Regions from separate parts of the Homo sapiens genome. Here region 2 is linked to region 1. The links come from fine-mapping of genetic effects on gene expression. Tissue or cell type: tibial nerve. Region 1 holds a variant in brackets; the other region holds the start of a gene. All regions are shown on one strand. Distances are between the middles of the regions.

Evidence for each region. PIP is the estimated chance that this variant, and not a neighbour inherited with it, causes the effect.
Region 2: ITM2C starts here. The variant in region 1 is fine-mapped to the expression of ITM2C in tibial nerve (GTEx, PIP above 0.99).

Annotation. Positions count from the first base shown.
Region 1 is chr2:230,881,889-230,890,066 of GRCh38, reverse strand. It overlaps GCSIR (GPR55 cis regulatory suppressor of immune response RNA), which reads right to left and starts at 3,521. Exons shown (of 4, transcript NR_038238.1): 1 at 3,098-3,521. RefSeq lists an enhancer at 4,089-4,158. The variant C/T (reference allele first, on the strand shown) is at 4,068.
Region 2 is chr2:230,860,680-230,868,857 of GRCh38, reverse strand. It overlaps ITM2C (integral membrane protein 2C), which reads right to left and starts at 3,916. Exons shown (of 6, transcript NM_030926.6): 1 at 3,713-3,916. The coding sequence starts at 3,832. RefSeq lists silencers at 2,717-2,816, 3,607-3,696, 3,797-4,166 and enhancers at 2,600-3,256, 3,257-3,915, 4,574-5,232, 6,358-6,968.

The DNA of each region.
Region 1 (8,178 bases):
CTAGTGAAGGGGAGGAAAAGTAGAAGCATGAGGCAGGGGCATGGAGGAGAAACCCGCCAAGCTCCCCACGCGCCTTGTAGGCTTCCCATGTGGGCAGGTCTGGGATGGGGCAAGGGAGTGGTTTTAACTTCAAATGCCATCTGGAGTTTCAACTGTTTTGATAGTTAGATGTTGTAATTACTGAAATTGGATTTGTGTGAATAAAAGTTACCCAAGGGATTTTTATTATCTTGGATGGACCAGAAAAACCAAGAAACCTACCTTCAATTTCATCCAAGGTCAGAGGAGAACCCAACCCACCGACCAGGCTTGAAAAGGTAGTGGGAGAAAGAATTGTTTTCGGATTACACCCCACAAGGCTCCCGTGTTCAATAAAACTGTGACACAAACACTGGGAACAATTCTGGTGAATTTAGGAAGAAAGGAATTGATTGACGGGACACTGGGTGGCTCAGAGTCACTGGGTGGGCTGGAGAAACCACTTCAGCAATTGGGAGACCACAAAGGGAACCGCGGGCTCCAGAATGTGGAGATGATGCCACCACCTTCCTGATGCCCACGAGACTCTGTGTTGCTGTTGTCCCCTCTACCAGGATGCATTTTTCACTGTCCCCCTTCCTGAGTCACTTGTCCCTATGGCATGGTCTGGGTGTGATATGGTATGGCTCTTTGTCCCCACCCAAATCTCATCTCACATTGTAATCCCCGCATCAAGGGAGGAGCCTGGTGGGAGGTGATTGGATCGGGGGGCAGTTTCTCCCATGAGTCGTCACTCATGAGTTCTGGTTGTTTGATAAGTGTCTGGCACTTCCCCGCCGTGCTCTCTCTCTCTCTCCTGCCACATGTGAGACTAACACGTGCCTTGCTTCCCCTTCGCCTTCGGCCGCGATGGTAAGTTTCCAGAGGCCTCCCCAGCCACGTGGAACCGTGAGTCAATTAAACCTCTTTCCTTTCTAAATTACCCAGTCTCAGGTAGAATCTTCATTGCAGTGTGAACATGGACTAATACAGAGAGGAAACATCTGATTGGCTGAGCCTGGTCACATGCTTGACTCCAGCCCCAAGGGGCACTGGGAAAAACAGATTCAGCTTAACAACAGGGATATGTCCTGAGAAATGCATTGTCAGGCAGTTTCATTGTGTGAACATCGTAGGGTGCACTTACACAAACCCGCATGGCATAGCCTACTGCACACCTGGGCTATACATGTTAGCCTACATGGCATAGCCTACTGCACACCTGGGCTATACGGGTTATCCTGTTGCTCCTAGGCCACAAGCCTGTGCAGCATGTTTCTGTACTGAATACTGTAGGCAATCGCAACACAATGGTGTATCTAAACATAGAAAAATATCGTTCAAAATATGGTAGGAAAAATAAAAATATGGTACACCTGTGTAAGGCGCTTACCATGAATGGAGCTTGCAGGACTGGAGGTTGCTCTGGGTGAGTCAGTGAGTGGTTGGTGAGTGAATGGGAAGGCCTGGGACATTACCGACCACTGCTGTAGACTTTGTAAACGCTGTACATTTAGGCTACACCACATTTACGGAAGATTTTTTCTTTCCTCAATAGTAATGTAACCTTAGCTTACTGTACCTTTTTTTTCCTTTATAAACTTTTCAATTTTTAAAAACCTTTGGACTTTTCTATAATAATACTTAGCATAAAACACCAACACATAGAGCTTCACAAAGTATTTTCTTTGTACCCTTAGTCTTTTGTTCTTTTTTTTTTTTTTTGAGGCAGAGTCTCCCTCTTGTCACCCAAGCTGGAGTGCAATGGTGTGTCTCGGCTCACTGCAACATCCGCCTCCTGGGTTCAAGCTATTCTCCTCCCTCAGCCCCCCAAGTAGCTGGGATTACAGGTGCGCACCACCACGCCCAGCTAATTTTTGTGTTTTTAGTAGAGACGGGGCTTCACCATGTCGGCCAGGCTGATCTCGAATTTCTGACCTCAGGTGATCCGCCTGCCTCGGCCTCCCAAAGTGCTGGGATTACACCACGCCCAGTCCCCCTTTTTTTCTATTAAAAATTTTTTTTTTAACTTTTAAACTTTTTAGTTAAAAACTAGACACTAACACACACATGAGCCTAGGCCTACATAGGGTCAGGACCATCAGTATCACCATCTCCACCTCCACATCCTGTCCCACTGGAAGGACTTCAGAGGCAATGCATGCATGGAGCTGTCACCTCCTATGATGACAATGCCTTCTTCTGGAAACCTCCTGAAGGATCTGCTGAGTCTGTTTACAGTTAACTTTTTTTTTAATAACTAAAAAGAGTACACTCTTATTAGCAATTAAAAACACAGTGTAGTAAATACGTAAACCAGCAACATAGTTGTTTATTATTATTAAGTATTAAGTACTACACATAATTGTATGGGCTATACTTTTATATGACTGGCAGTGCGGTAGGTTTGTTTACAGCAGCATCAACACAAACACATGAGTGATGTGTTGCACTCTGACCTTACAATGGCTGTGACGTCACTAGGCAATAGGAATTTTTCAGCTCCATTGTAATTTTACGGGACCACTGTGGTATGTGCAGTCATTGTTGCCTGAAACGTCGTTATGTGGTGCATGGCTGCATAATAGTAGGTGGCTGGTGTCTCCCATCAAAACTGTTTTGGAGGGGCAAATCCTGAATACAGGAACGTGATTCAGATGATTGGCCCCTGGTGGGGAAGGGAGGGCAAAAATTAATATCTTTGAAAAGGGCAAACTGAAGTGATGACCGAGTTTACCTAGAAAATATCAAGATTACACATTCTGCCACTAGACTAAGGGAAGGTTTGAAAACTAGATTATTACACAAAACACACTATTATAGAAAAATAAAGATACCAATAAAGATACTTTGGACACCTGAGTTTGTGGCTATGAAATTCATACTCACCCCAGAGATAACGCGAGACACGAACAAAAGTAATCAATGAAAAACTGCTGGCATACTGACTGCTTGAACACTGTGGGCACTCGCTCAGTGTGGGACAAGCGTGCTGGCTAAAGTCCCTCCCCTTCCCTCCCTCCCCTCCCTGTCCTCCCCACCTCCCCCTGCCTCCCACCCCCACCCCCCACCCCATTACCTCACTGCTGCCAGCCTTCCCTTTCCCATCAGTCCTCCGTTAGGCGCAGAGCCCTGGCTCCTGCGGGGCCAGGCTGGACGTGGCTTCCAGTGACAGGGCCCTTTGTCTCACAGGTGGGAGGCTGGCGTGCGACCTTCATCGGCTCCCACGTCTCTGCCTCCGTGCTCTGGCAGCTGGAGTGGGTGCAGCATGCAGCAAGGATACGGAGATGCCATGGTGGGCCACCGTGACTGCCGACCCTTCTAGGACTGCACCCCCGTCAGTCCTGGCTGCCCCAGGCCCTAGACTCAAAGCCTCTCTTCCAGTCCCCACAGGGAACAGGGCCCCAGGAGGAGAGCAGGCTGCCCCCGTGCCCCGGGCCCTCAGAGGGTGAATTTGGACCTTTCCTGTTGTATTTTGCCCACTCTCTGACATTCCTCTTCCCCACCTTCAAAGCTCAAATGGTTCCCCAGGAAGCCTGCACTAGTCACTCTGATCTCTCCCTCCTCTGAACCCTGTGCTGCCAGGTCACATGCAAAACACGTGTCATTAAAGCTGGAAAAGACCTTCAGAATGACTTGGTCCAAACTCCCCATTTTACAGAAGGGCAAGTTGGAGCCCAGAGATGATGTTAGCCCACCACAGCTGTACAGATGCACCAGGGGACAATGGCAGAGTCCAGATCCCCGGGACCTCGGGACACAGGACTCCCTCCTTACTTCGGGGACACTGCATGTGCTGCCTTGGGTGGTCTGCTGTGCCTCCCCATGAGGGCACGTCCCATGGAAATGGGCTCTTTTTCTTTCCCAGGCAGAGAGCTGGAGGTGCCCAGGGCCCCACACCTGACATGGCCAGGGTGGGCAGGGACCAGTCCATCATCATTCCCTAAGCAGTTATTGGAGCTCTGAGGTCCCTGATAAGTAACACTCCAGCACCAGTGGGTGGTAACTCCTTCAGGCAGAAGGCTGAGCACGGTTTCCATGGAGACCGC[C/T]CAGGCTCTGGTTTCCAAGACAACACTTGCACGAGGTTACAGAGCTTCCTATTTATGTCAACTTAACATTTCCAACTGCTCTATTCTTCTGGCCAAACCCGGGCCTAATGCAAGGCCTCCATTCTAGGATGGGTGACAGTCCTCGAGGGCTGGAGGGAAGTGGCTGAGACTCCGTGCAGTTAGGTGAAAGTGAGACATTGCAGCCAGCAGGGCCTCCTCAAGCCCAGGGGCAGGTGTACAGAGACCAATACATGCTCATGCTTATGAATTATAAAAAGGTGTAGAAAGAGACGTAGTCCTACAGCTTCCTGCCATCCCTGCTCTCCAGAGGGAACTGGTGTTACAAGGCTTTGAGTGCGCTTCCAGAAATAGCACATGCACAGCCATAGCGCTATCACTTAAAAAATTCACAAACGGGATAGAGATAAATATATATTCTTGCTCTTGCCACCTGCTTTACCCTAATTATAGATTTCGGAGAACTTTACACATCAGCACAAATAGATCTACCTCATTCTTTGTAATAGCAACAAAATACTGTACTTTTTTAAAATACCAAGTCTCCAACTAAAGGACATTTGTCTTTAGTTTCTTGCTATTATAACAATAAATATGCTTGTACATATACTTTTGCATATCCTATGGAGTACATCCATAGGATACATTCTGGGCCAAAAACATTGCATTTTAAAATTTGATTTTGTCAAACTAATTTACTCCCATTACAGGCCAATGTTACAAAAAACATATATCTAAAATTCCTAAACAAAATGTTAGCAAATGGAATCCAGTAGCATAGATATAAGAAAATACCTCATGACTAAATCAGTTAGCAATATTCGCCACATTAACAGATATGCAAACATATGAATAGATGCAGAAAAAACATTTGATAAAACAATTTAATATCAATCCTTGATTAAAAATAAAAACACTTTGAAAACTAAGAATAGAGAACTTCTTAAATCTCAAAGAGTATTCTTCTAATATTTACAGCTAAACTATATTCAAGGTGAATTTCCTTTTAAATCAAGAACAAAACAAGATTTGTGGCTATCACCATGGTGCCAGAGCTCCTACCCAGTAAGATAGCACAAGAAAAATAAATAAAAGTTTTAATTATTTGAATGGAAGAAACAAAATTTACTCATAATCAGTTACCAGAATTGCTTGTCTACAAAGCACAAGGCTGGGCACTGTAGCTCCCGCTTGTAATCCCAGCACTTTGGGAGGCTGAGGCAGGTGGATCACTTGAGGTCAGGAGTTCGAGACCAGCCTGGCCAACATGGCAAAACCCCGTCTGTACTAAAAAGACAAAAATTAGCCAGGTGTAGTGGCATGGGCCTGTAATTCCAGCTACTCGGGAGGCTGAAGCAGGAGAATCGCTTGAACCCTAGAGGCGGAGGTTGCAGTGAGCCTAGATTGTACCATTGTACTCCAGCCTGGGTGATAGAGTGAGACTCTGTCTCAAAAAAAAAAAAAAAAAAAAAAATTTCCTCAGAGAACTTTGTGGAATAAGAAAGACAGCCCGGCAAGTTTGCTGGATCAATACTCAAAAATAAATTATACTTCTACACATTGGCAACAAAGGTATAATTATTAAACATCATAACAACAAATATAAGGGACATAGGAATCAATGTAATGAAAGATTTGTAAGACCCCTACTGAGGAAAGTATAAAACTATGTTGGAAGACATTAACAATGCAGATTTTAAAAATACCATGTTCATGGGTGAGAGCACTCAATATCCTGATTTCAATTCTCCCCAAGTGGATCTATAGATTTCATATAAGTCCATTAAGAACCTCAACAGAAGGCCAGGCGCGGTGGCTCACACCTGTAATCCCAGCACTTTGGGAGGCTGAGGTGGGCGGATCATGAGGGCATTGAGACCATCCTGGCTAACATGGTGAAACCCCATCCCTACTAAAAATACAAAAAATTAACTGAGCACGGTGGCAGGTGCCTGTAGTCTCAGCTACTTGGGAGGCTGACACAGGAGAATGGCGTGAACCTGGGAGGCGGAGCTTGCAGTGAGCAGAGATCACGCCACTGCACTCCAGCATGAGTGACAGAGCGAGACTCCGTCACAAAAAAAAAAAAAAAAAAAAAGAACCTCAACAGAATTTTCCATGAAACTTGGCAGTTGTTTCTAAAATGCATATGAACAAAAAGGGCCAAGAATAGGCATGGCACTGCTGGAGAGAATCAAGGTAGGAAACTTTTAGTACCAGGTAGCAAGACTTACTTTAAGTGTGGTTATGGTCCAACGGATAGACCTGATGAACAAAACAGAAAGCCCAGAAGTAGACCTTACATATAGAGAAACTTGATCCTTGCAGACATATACTGTAACTCAGTGGGGAAGGAAAAACAAAAACAGAACAAATCGTTATTCCTACCTCACATCAGACCAGGGATTAAATTCCTGGGGATTCAAAAATGTAAAATACAAAACTCTAAAATGAATAGAAGAAATTGTAGAATAATGCCTCTTCAACCTTAGGATGGGAAAGATTTCTGAAATGATATAAAAGGCCCTAACCACAAGGAAAAAGATGAATAAATTTGACTGCATTAAAATCAATAATTTCTGTTCATCAAAGTGACCACAAAGAAAGTGAGAAAGCTATGTACACGTGATGCTGTTTGTAAAAAAAAAAAAAAGGTGAGAAGGCAAGCCATGAACTAACTTGGGTAAGATACTTACCACCCATCAATGAAAATATGTAAAATATAAAATGTATAAATATATAAATAACTCCTACAAATTAGTAAGAAAACAAAGCAACCAATAGAAAAATAGGCCAAAGAAAGCAAGTCGGCATTTTACAGGAAAGGAAATTTGAGGGTTCAATAAACATGTGAAACCGGCCCCACTTTTCTAGTAATCGAGGAGACACAACTAAAACCATAATGAAATACCATTTTATTTCCTATCCATTGGCAAAAAACGTATTGCTAACATGAAGTGTTGACAAGGATGTGGAACGAGTAGAATGTCTATGCGGTGCAGCTGGAAGTGTAAATTGGTTCAATGTCTTACAAAAAACAATCTGCTAGAATTTTATGAGTTGAATATTTGCACACTGTGTGACCCAGTGCTGAGGTGCCCCAGGAACCCCATCAAAGAAATGTTCATGAAAGCGTTCTGATAGTAAAAAAAAAAAAAAAAAATCAGAAAAAAATCCAAAGAGCCATGGTTAGTCATTGTTTCATAGGTATTAAGCTGTATATTCATACAATGAACTAATATACAACAGTAAAAATGAATGAAATATTACCATAGGCTTCAACATGGACACGGCTTAAAAGGTTTGGAGGGTGGGGAAGCAAGTCAGAGAATAATATGTGTATTTTGTTACCACTTTCACAGTGTTCAGATCCAAGCAAAACTTCCTCAGGGATTCTTGGATATATGGTACAATTAGAAAGCAGAACAGAGAAACCCAAGATAGGAATTACCTGGATTGGCTAATTAGTAGAGTTTAAGATTGGCTAATTTATGGAAAATTGACATATTTTCAAGATTGTCTTTGGTTCTAAGAATAGGTGTGTCTTTGCACTAATTCAGGCATTTAATGTCCCCCATGAAATACTGAGGGGAGAGGGATGGCGGGGAGTGCTCGGATGATGTCTGAGTTTCCAACAGTTCTTGGCATCCCTGAGCATGCAAGCTGCTCCCCATCTGCAGGGTCTTTCCCTCCCCTTGAATCGGAACTGGTTTTGTGACTTGCTTTGACCAACAGAATGCAATGAAGTAACATTCTGGGATTTGTGGTGCCAGGTCTTAAAGGATGGTCAGCCTCTGCTTCCCCTCTTTTGGAGCTCAATTGACAAGCTGTAAGGAGGGCTGGGCTAGACCATTAATGGTTAGAGGCCACGTGGAGCGAGGCCCTTGGAGGGTGAGAGGCCATCTTGGTTGCTTGGACCGCAGCTGAGCTCCCAGATGAACATACAGCAGAGGGTGCGGTTATCCCACGGGGACCCCTCGGTCATCCAGCTGAACTCAGGCAACTCACAGACTCGGGAAAAATAATAAACCACTGTGTCAGGCCACTAAGTTTTGGGATGGTTTGTTATGCAACAGGAAGAGGAGAAGAGCAT
Region 2 (8,178 bases), 21 kb after region 1:
GGAGCAGGGCCGCTGCTCCACAAAGTGCTTTCGGGCCAGGCCCTCTTGGCCAGTGGGCATCAGGACACTGGGGTAGGGCTAAGCTGGCCAGATTTGCCCTCCTGGCTGGCACGGGACCCTCCCCCAACCGCTCCAGGAGACCCAGCTCCTCCTGCCGAGGGCCTGAGACCAGGACACACTAGGAAACTGAAATCTGATCCCCAGGTATGCAGGCTGGGGAGGGGGTGACACAGGACCATTAATCAAAGGCAAATGCCAAGGAGAAAATTACAGAGGTAAGAAGATGATTGTATTTAACTTGTTTTTCTCCCCTTACAGCCCCAGCTCGTGAGCCTCTACATGCCCACATCTGTGCGTGCATGTGTGTGCATAAGTGTGTGTGTGTGTGTGTGTGAGTGCAGGCACAGGCAGGGTGTGGGGAGAAGGGGCAGGCTAAGAGGGGCATGGCCAGCCAGTGGGCCCCCAAAGGGGAGGAGGGATCCAGTTGGCGCTGGGAGGGAGTGCTTTGCTGTCCCAGGGGGTGCTTCCGGTCCAGCCCACTTCCCAAGCTGGCAGTGTCCCAGCTCCTCATTATCTCAGAGTCAAAACACCAGGGGGGGAGGCCGGGCAGCTGGAAGCCCAGCTGGCCCCCACCCCCATCCCTCCCTGGCCCACTGAGGCACTTCCTTCCAGTCTCAGGTCCACAGACAAAATCCTCCTTGTGTTGCAGTTTTTGCTCAGAAGCAGGGGCAGTGCCCACCGAGAGGGTGCTCCTGCCGCCTCACCCTGCCCCCACCCCGCCCTCACTCTGGGCCTGGACACAGGTCAAGAACTGCCCCAACGCACAATCATCTGTTCACCGCACAATCATCTGTTCACCGAGTGCTCCTCCTGCGGATCACTTTTTACATCTTGTTTTGGGCCGGGTGTGGTGGCTGACACCTGTAATCCCAACAATTTGGGAGGCTGAGGTGGGAAGATCACCTGAGGTCAGGAATTTGAGACCAGTCTGGCCAACATGGTGAAACCCTGTCTCTACTAAAAATACAAAAATTAGCCGGGCATGGTGGCAGGTGCCTTTATTCCCAGCTACTTGGGAGGCTGAGGCAGGAGAATCACTTGAACCTGGAAGTGAAGGTTGCAATGAGCCAAGATCGTGCCACGGAACTCTAGCCTGGGTAAAAGTGAGACTCTGTCTCAAAAAAAAAAATAAAATAAAATAAAATAGATAAAATAAAATAAATCTTGTTTTGGAGTCCAGTTCAGACACCAAGGAGGGTTCTGGGGTCACTGCCAGCCAGAAGAAACGTTTTAATAAGCTTTCCTGGGCATTCCCAACAGTACGGGACAAAATCTACACGCCCTGCCCTGAGAAAGCAGCCTCCTGGCTGCCATCCCTCGGCTCACAGAGCTACAGCTGAGAAATGGGCCTCCTGCCTGCTCACTGCTGGGGGCAGGAGACGAGGCCTGGCTCCTTGCCAGAAACTGGGTAAGGAGGAAATGTGCGGGTTGGCCAAGTGGGGCAACAGGAGGCCCGCAGAAGTGAACTGTTTCCAAGGCTCCAAATCTAGCAGGTGATGGGCAGAGCCAACTTGCAACACCTAAAGTCCCTCTGCACCACGCCAGGGCCTTGGGAAGCTGTGAAAGTTTACTAACATGCAGTTCTGTCCTAAAGATGCCAGGATTCTAATTCTTTCCCCAGATCGCATAGTCCTAAGCTCCCCCTTGCCAATTAGAGAGGGAGGGGACCCTGCCCAACTGACAAAGTTTGAGGGAGGAGGTACTCAGCAGGCTCAAGGCCATTACAAACAGCACGCAGGAAGATGTTGATATTTCCATTTCATGCTGGGTGAGGGGGAAGAAAGGACGCTCAATTTCAGAGCCTGATGAGAAGCCAGAAGCTAGGATGTCAGTTATGCCCCGAGATGCAGGTCTCTGTCAGACTGCCCAAACCCATGCCATCAGCAGGCTGCGGCTGGAGAATGTGCCGCTCCTGCAAAATCTGGGGGACCTTCTGATGGAGTTGGAATAACACCCTCCCACTGTCTGACCTGGTCCTCCCTCCTCAAATATCTCCAGGAAGAGGTGGCTAGGAAAAGAGATGGGCAAGCGTGCTGCCTCCTGCCCCCATCCCTGCCCCTCCCCAGGCTGAGTGGAGGGCAGCTTCCCTTCCAAAGAAAAGGAGTCTTGAAGAACCCCTTGCAAACTTTTAAAGCTGCAGAACCATCTTCTTCAAATATGGAGCGCCCCCTCCACCTAAGCTTCAGATGAAAAGGGGGGAGCTGCTCTCATGGGGTGCACAGCAACCCCCAACCTCGCCTAGGTGGTTGTTGAACTCTTGTGGCTCTGAGCCACTGGTTGCTGCAGTGACCACCATAAAAGGGCAGGGGGTTCTCAGTCTCCTGGCATTCCTCACTCAGGGTCTCTGCCCAGGCTGACACCCAACTCTGACGGCCCTCTCCGGCGCCCCCTCCTCCAGGGTCCAGGTCATCCTCTGCAGGCCCCTTAATGCCCCAGGCAAGACTGAACCTGAGCCACAAAACCTGGGGAGGGGGCTAGGCGTTCAGGAAGACTCTTCAGAAGCCTGCATCTGGAAGTGGGGAAGCAGTGGACAAAGACTTTCTCAGTCCTGCCTCAATGCGGGGTGGGGAGGCGGGGAGGACATGGGCTTGGTAAGCCACAAGACCGCTGGGGGCGGCGCCCACGTAGACACCTTTGCCAGGCACAATAAAACCTGGCTGGGCCAGCTCTCCCTCCCTCCCTGTCCCTGCCCGCCACGCGTTCTGCCCCCTGCGGGCCCTTCCCGGACACAAGGCACGCAGCTCAGACAGTTTTCCACGGCGGAAATGCCTTCTCTCCCCCCCGGCCAGAGGGAAAGTGGAGGAAGCCGGGGTAGGGGAGGGGGATGACAGGGGTGGGGGAACGCGCACAGAGCCCGGGGACCCAGGATGCAAGGGCACTGGGGCAGTTGGGAGCCCTCCCCGTGGGGTCGGGGGACAGCCCAGCGAGAGGCTGGGAATGGAGAAAAGAGAGGGGAGCAGGGAGGCCCAGACGGCAGGGCGTGGGGTGGGAAGGGGGCACCCGGCCTCGGACCCCCGACGTCCAGAGGCCGCAGCGCCGTCGGTTCTGGCTGATTTCCATTTCATCACTTTCTGGTCTGTCAATTCCGGTGCAGGCCAGCAGCACATCCTCTGTCCCTCGCAGCCCCCAATTTCGGAGGAAATCAACGGCCCCACCCTCTTCGTTGGTACCAGACCCCCCCACCCCCAATTCCCCAGCCAATCAGGTCCCACCGCCCTACTTTGGAAAAACTACGTCTAACCCTCCTCCCATCCCCCACCTGGGGACTCGACTCGCGGCTTTCCCAGTTGATTGGAACCAGACGCGTACCCCCCCACCAACATTCCTCGAACTTCTTCGGACCAGCCCCCTCCCCCTATAAGGCGGCGAGGGGGCCCCCACTTTTGGAAGAGACCTCGAGCACTTCTCCACCTGAAGACCAGAACCAGACGCCTCCCACTCTTCGGACTTCAGCTTTTGGCTGCCGCTTTAGTACGGGACTTAAGCCCCCTCCTCATTCTGGGATAAGCAACCATTCGAGACTTCCCAACCCTGCTCCACCCCGGGCTCTGGGGCCCTGACGCGCCTCGGGCAGTCCCCAGGGCCGACGGGGCGCGCCTGGGTCGTGAGCCTGGGTCCCCCGCCCCACCGCCTGAGCCCCAGACCCTCTCACCCTAGCCGGCGTCAGCAGGATCTCGGTGGCCGAGGCCGGCGCAGGGGCCGACGCCGACGCCTTGTCAGCCTTGTCGCCCTTGATGCCAGCCACGGCGGGCTGGAAGCTAATCTTCACCATGGCTGCGCCGGCCCGCGCGTCCGCCCCGCAGCCTCTGCCGGTGCAGCCTCGGTCTCTGCCTCCGCCGCTCCGAGCTCTGCAGGCACCGGAAGTTTGGATCCCGCTCGCGTCCCTCTCTCTAACCCCACCCCCAGCCCTCCCCGCCCCGTCCCCGCGGGAGGGCCCCGGCGCCCGCCGCGCCTGCGCCCCCTTCCCGCCCGCGGGGCCCGCAGTGACCCCTGCCGGGCGCGCCGCTCCGCACCTGGGGCGGGTCGGAGTTCCTTCTGCCGCTCGCTCGCACAGTCACTCACTCGCTCGCTCACTCACTCACTCACTCACTCGCTCACTCATTCATTCAGCCGTCACGCTCGGATCCGTTCTCCGTAGCATAATCCCTTCGCATTCCCTGTCCAAGGCCAGCATCCCCGCAACGCAAGTCTTTGTTAACCCAGTGTTTGCCAGGCAAATGCAGCTTCCAGACAACTCACCCGTCTCTCCTGCCCCACTTCAGGTCTTCCCCTTTAGAAACGCTGGAGCCTCCGCTCTACCTGTCCCCACGCCCCCCTCCTCCGACCTGTCCTTGGCGCGGGGAGGAGGCTTTGAGACAGGCGCCAAACTGCTGCCTCCGTCTTGCCTTCTGAAGCCATCCACGCCTCCTTCATCCTCCATCTTGCTTCTGCCTTCATTCTTTATTCCTGCAAAACCTTCCTGGGGGGTCCTGGGGTGCACGCTGGAGCCGCCTGGAGTGGAGAAGGGAAGGCCGCCCCTGCTCCCTGGCTCCTTCGTGTTGCTGCGACCTCAGTTATTGGGTGACCTCCTGAACTGCCCTTGTCTCACTCATCCAGGAGGACCCTGGCGAGAGTGGAGGGAAGACCCCCAGGGCGGGTGTCAGAGGCTCGGGTTCCACTCAAGACTCTGCTCCTCCCAAGTATCACGGGTACTGGGGAAGCAGGGGCTTCTGTTGCTGGGATGGCTGCTCTTGGCACTAACGCCCTGAATCTTTCCTCTTTGCTCCTGGTCCAGACTGGGCCAGGGACAGCGCCCAGCAACACACACAGGTTGTGCTGAGTGGTCCGCTTTGGTTCTGCTGTTGGGCTGCCAGTGGAGGGCAGGGGAGTCCGTCCGCTTCTTGAGGACAGTCCGGGGTCCTCCACTGATCTCTCTTCTCACCTTTCAGGTCTTTTGCAGCTGCCTTGGGCCCTTAGCGCCCACGTCCCAGACCCGGACCTCTTGGCTCAGATCTTGGATGAACCTAGCAACCTTGAGGACAGACAGGTGGGGAAAGAAGAAAGTCTAACTGATGCTAAGGCCACCAGCCTGGGGAACTGGGGGGAGGGAATGGGGAGGTGGAAGAAGACAGATGGTTTGGAGGAGACGAGGAGGAATCTGGTTTGGCACAGAGCCAGAGAGGAAGGTGTTATGGACTACCGCTCATCACCTGCTCCAGATCCCATGGGAAACCTGGTGTCTGGAGAAGGCAAGCTCCACGTCTTGCTTAGGCCACACCCCCAACATGCATTCCTTCACTCAGTGTTTTCCAAGCACCCCTGTGTGCCAAGCATTGTGTTAAGCTCTGTGGCAGAAAACAGAGATGCCCAAGACACAACCCAGCCACCAAGGATGTGGTCATGTGAAACCTTCTATGAGTGGCATTCTTTCACGTGCATTCAATTATTTAATTTTCATCACAGCCTCTGTGACCTACACATTAGCCTCATGTTAATAGTGATAGAAGGTAGCATGACTAAACCCAGGGTCGCAGAGCTGGTTTGGCACAAATCTCTGGTCAGCAAGACAGGGCCACCTGGGTGAAGCATCCACATGCCTGAGATTGGCAGGCGAGCACCCCACTTCCCCTGGAAGGCCTTCCCAGACCGGCTGGGATAAGTCCCTTTCCTGTGCACCTTCAGCACTGTGCACATCCCCCTCGGGCCTCTCCTTACGCTTGACCATGGACTCAATGCCGGCCAAGTGCTGGGCGTACAACCTAGTGCAGTGATTCCTAAATTTTTTGGTTTCAGGACCCCAAGAGCTTTTGTTTAGGTGGCTTATGTCTATCAACATTTACCATATTAGAAACTAAAACTCAGAAAGTTTTAAGACACAAGAATACATATATTCCATTGGGCATCAAAGCGATGTCATCACACATGTAGTCTCTGGAAAACCCCACTGCACGCTAATGAGAGAATGAGAGTGAAAAGGGCAAATAATGACTTATATTGTTGCAAAAAATAGTTTTGACCTTGGAGACCCCCCTGAATGGGTCTTGGGGGGCACCATGCTCTGCAGATCACCTGTTCAGATGCTCAAGAATCCATATTCCATGGATTCTAAGAAACACATTTCTTCACATTTTAACATCTTGAGAATCAAGATATCTTTTACAATTATAATTGGCAGTGATTAAGTAATGTCTTTCACAAGTGATAGCATCTTATATTTGATGGAGTACAGTATAGCCAGTCAATAATCCAAGGGGAGCCAGGAGGCTGCGGGAGGTCCATGTCGCATACTGAGTTTTGTGGACTCAGGGAAGGACAGCAGGGTGAATGCGGTCGTGGTGCAGCCCAGGCTCCATGCAAGACAGGAGATTTGGGTGGGAACTGGAAAGACACAGGGTGTGGACAAGTGACAGGGAAATGAGAGTCCGCACTGGGAGTGAGGAGAGTGACTCTGGGCCAGGAGCCCTCAGCTCAGTCCAACAGCCATTCCTGCCAGCACCTGAATCCTCTTTGTTCTGTTCTTGCATCTTACCCAAGTGGCAGAGCTTCTCCTGTCCCCCTTTCTGGTTCCAGGTTCTGCTCAGGGACTGCTAAGTTCTGTTGGTGAAAGTGATACCATCATGCCCCTTGGGACCAGCATGCTACCTCCTCTTGGAGGGGCATGGTGGCAGCCATGCAAAGCGGTCCCCTTGGAGCTGCAGGGTGGGACAGCTGTGGCTTCTTTAACCAGTCATTCTCCAAGCAAGGACCTCGGCCAGCAGCCCCAGCAGCACCTGGGAACTTGTTAGGAAGGCAAACCCTTTCTATGTCTATTCCGAAACTCAGGGTGTGTTCTGTGCCCACCAAGCCCTTAGTGATTCTGATGCACACTCGGGTTTGGGAACTGCTGCTCTGTCACTCTGTCCACACTCTCAACGGCCACATCCTGCCCTCTCCAGACTGCTGCACACCTCTCAGCAGCTCAGCTGCTGAGGATCTGGAAGCCATGGCTTTAGGTGGCTTATGTCTATCAACATAAGAACGCCCTCCTGCCTGCCAGCACATCCGCCCCCATCCACAGCTGCCCTTCTGCCCACTGCTCCTCCTGCCACTCGCCGCGGAAGAGGCGTCTGTCTTTTCTCTCCAGCCACTCTCTAGATGAGGATTCCACCCCTCCCCTCCTATCAGACACCTGAGACATCCATCAGCCCCCGCCTCCTAACCTTTCAGCTCTTCCTGTCAGCTCTGAAACATGCTCGTATTAGCCTTAAAACAAAAACAAACCCCTTCTTTGACCCCACGTCCTCCTCCACTTGATACCCTGTTTATCTTTTCTTCTTCTTAGCCAAACCTCTTGAAAATTCAGTCTCCATTTCCTTATCACTCCCTACACTCATCCTACCTCAATCTGGCTTCTATTCCTCCACCTCCACCTGGCTGAAATCTCCAAGCTGCTTTTCAGTCCTCATCTTCCTTGCGTTGATTTTGAGCCTCTTGGCTGAGGCCTCTCCACTAACTCTTCCCTTCCCTCATCAACTCTGGTGTGATTGGCTCCAGTGGGAAGGGCTGTTGGAATCAATCCTGCAACAGTTCACTTTGAAAATAAAATCTCAGGCTGTGCACGGTGGCTCCTGCCTGTAATCCTAGCACTTTGGGAGGCCAAGGTGGGCGGATTGCTTGAGCCCAGGAGTTCAAGATCAACCTGGGCAACATAGCGAGATCCCCGTCTCTAGTTAAAATAAAATCAGAAATGAGAACTTTTACATGTATTTGCCTGTTTCTCAAAATTTAGAAGTTGAATGTTGTTTGCAAAGATATCTAGTTTATTACAATTTAAAGCACTGGTTATGTAAGACTTATGGTTGTAACAAATCCATAGAGGGTCAGTAGATTAGCTTTCTGGAAATGTAACGGGCTCAGACAAGGGTGTGCCCATTGTCCTCAGAGTTCTTCTCAAGGAGAAGTGTGCTCCATCAATCACATGCTCTGAGTAAGGGAGTGGGTGAGTTTGAGATCCTGTTCTTCTGACAAGAGCAGCAGCTATCTTCAGCTCCACCTCCCCTACCTCCACCTGCCCCCTTCAGAGGCCCCTCTTTTCCACTGAGGAGCTAGCTGAAAGCTAAGTGTTGAAGGTAATTAAAAAAAAATTTTAGGTAAAATGAA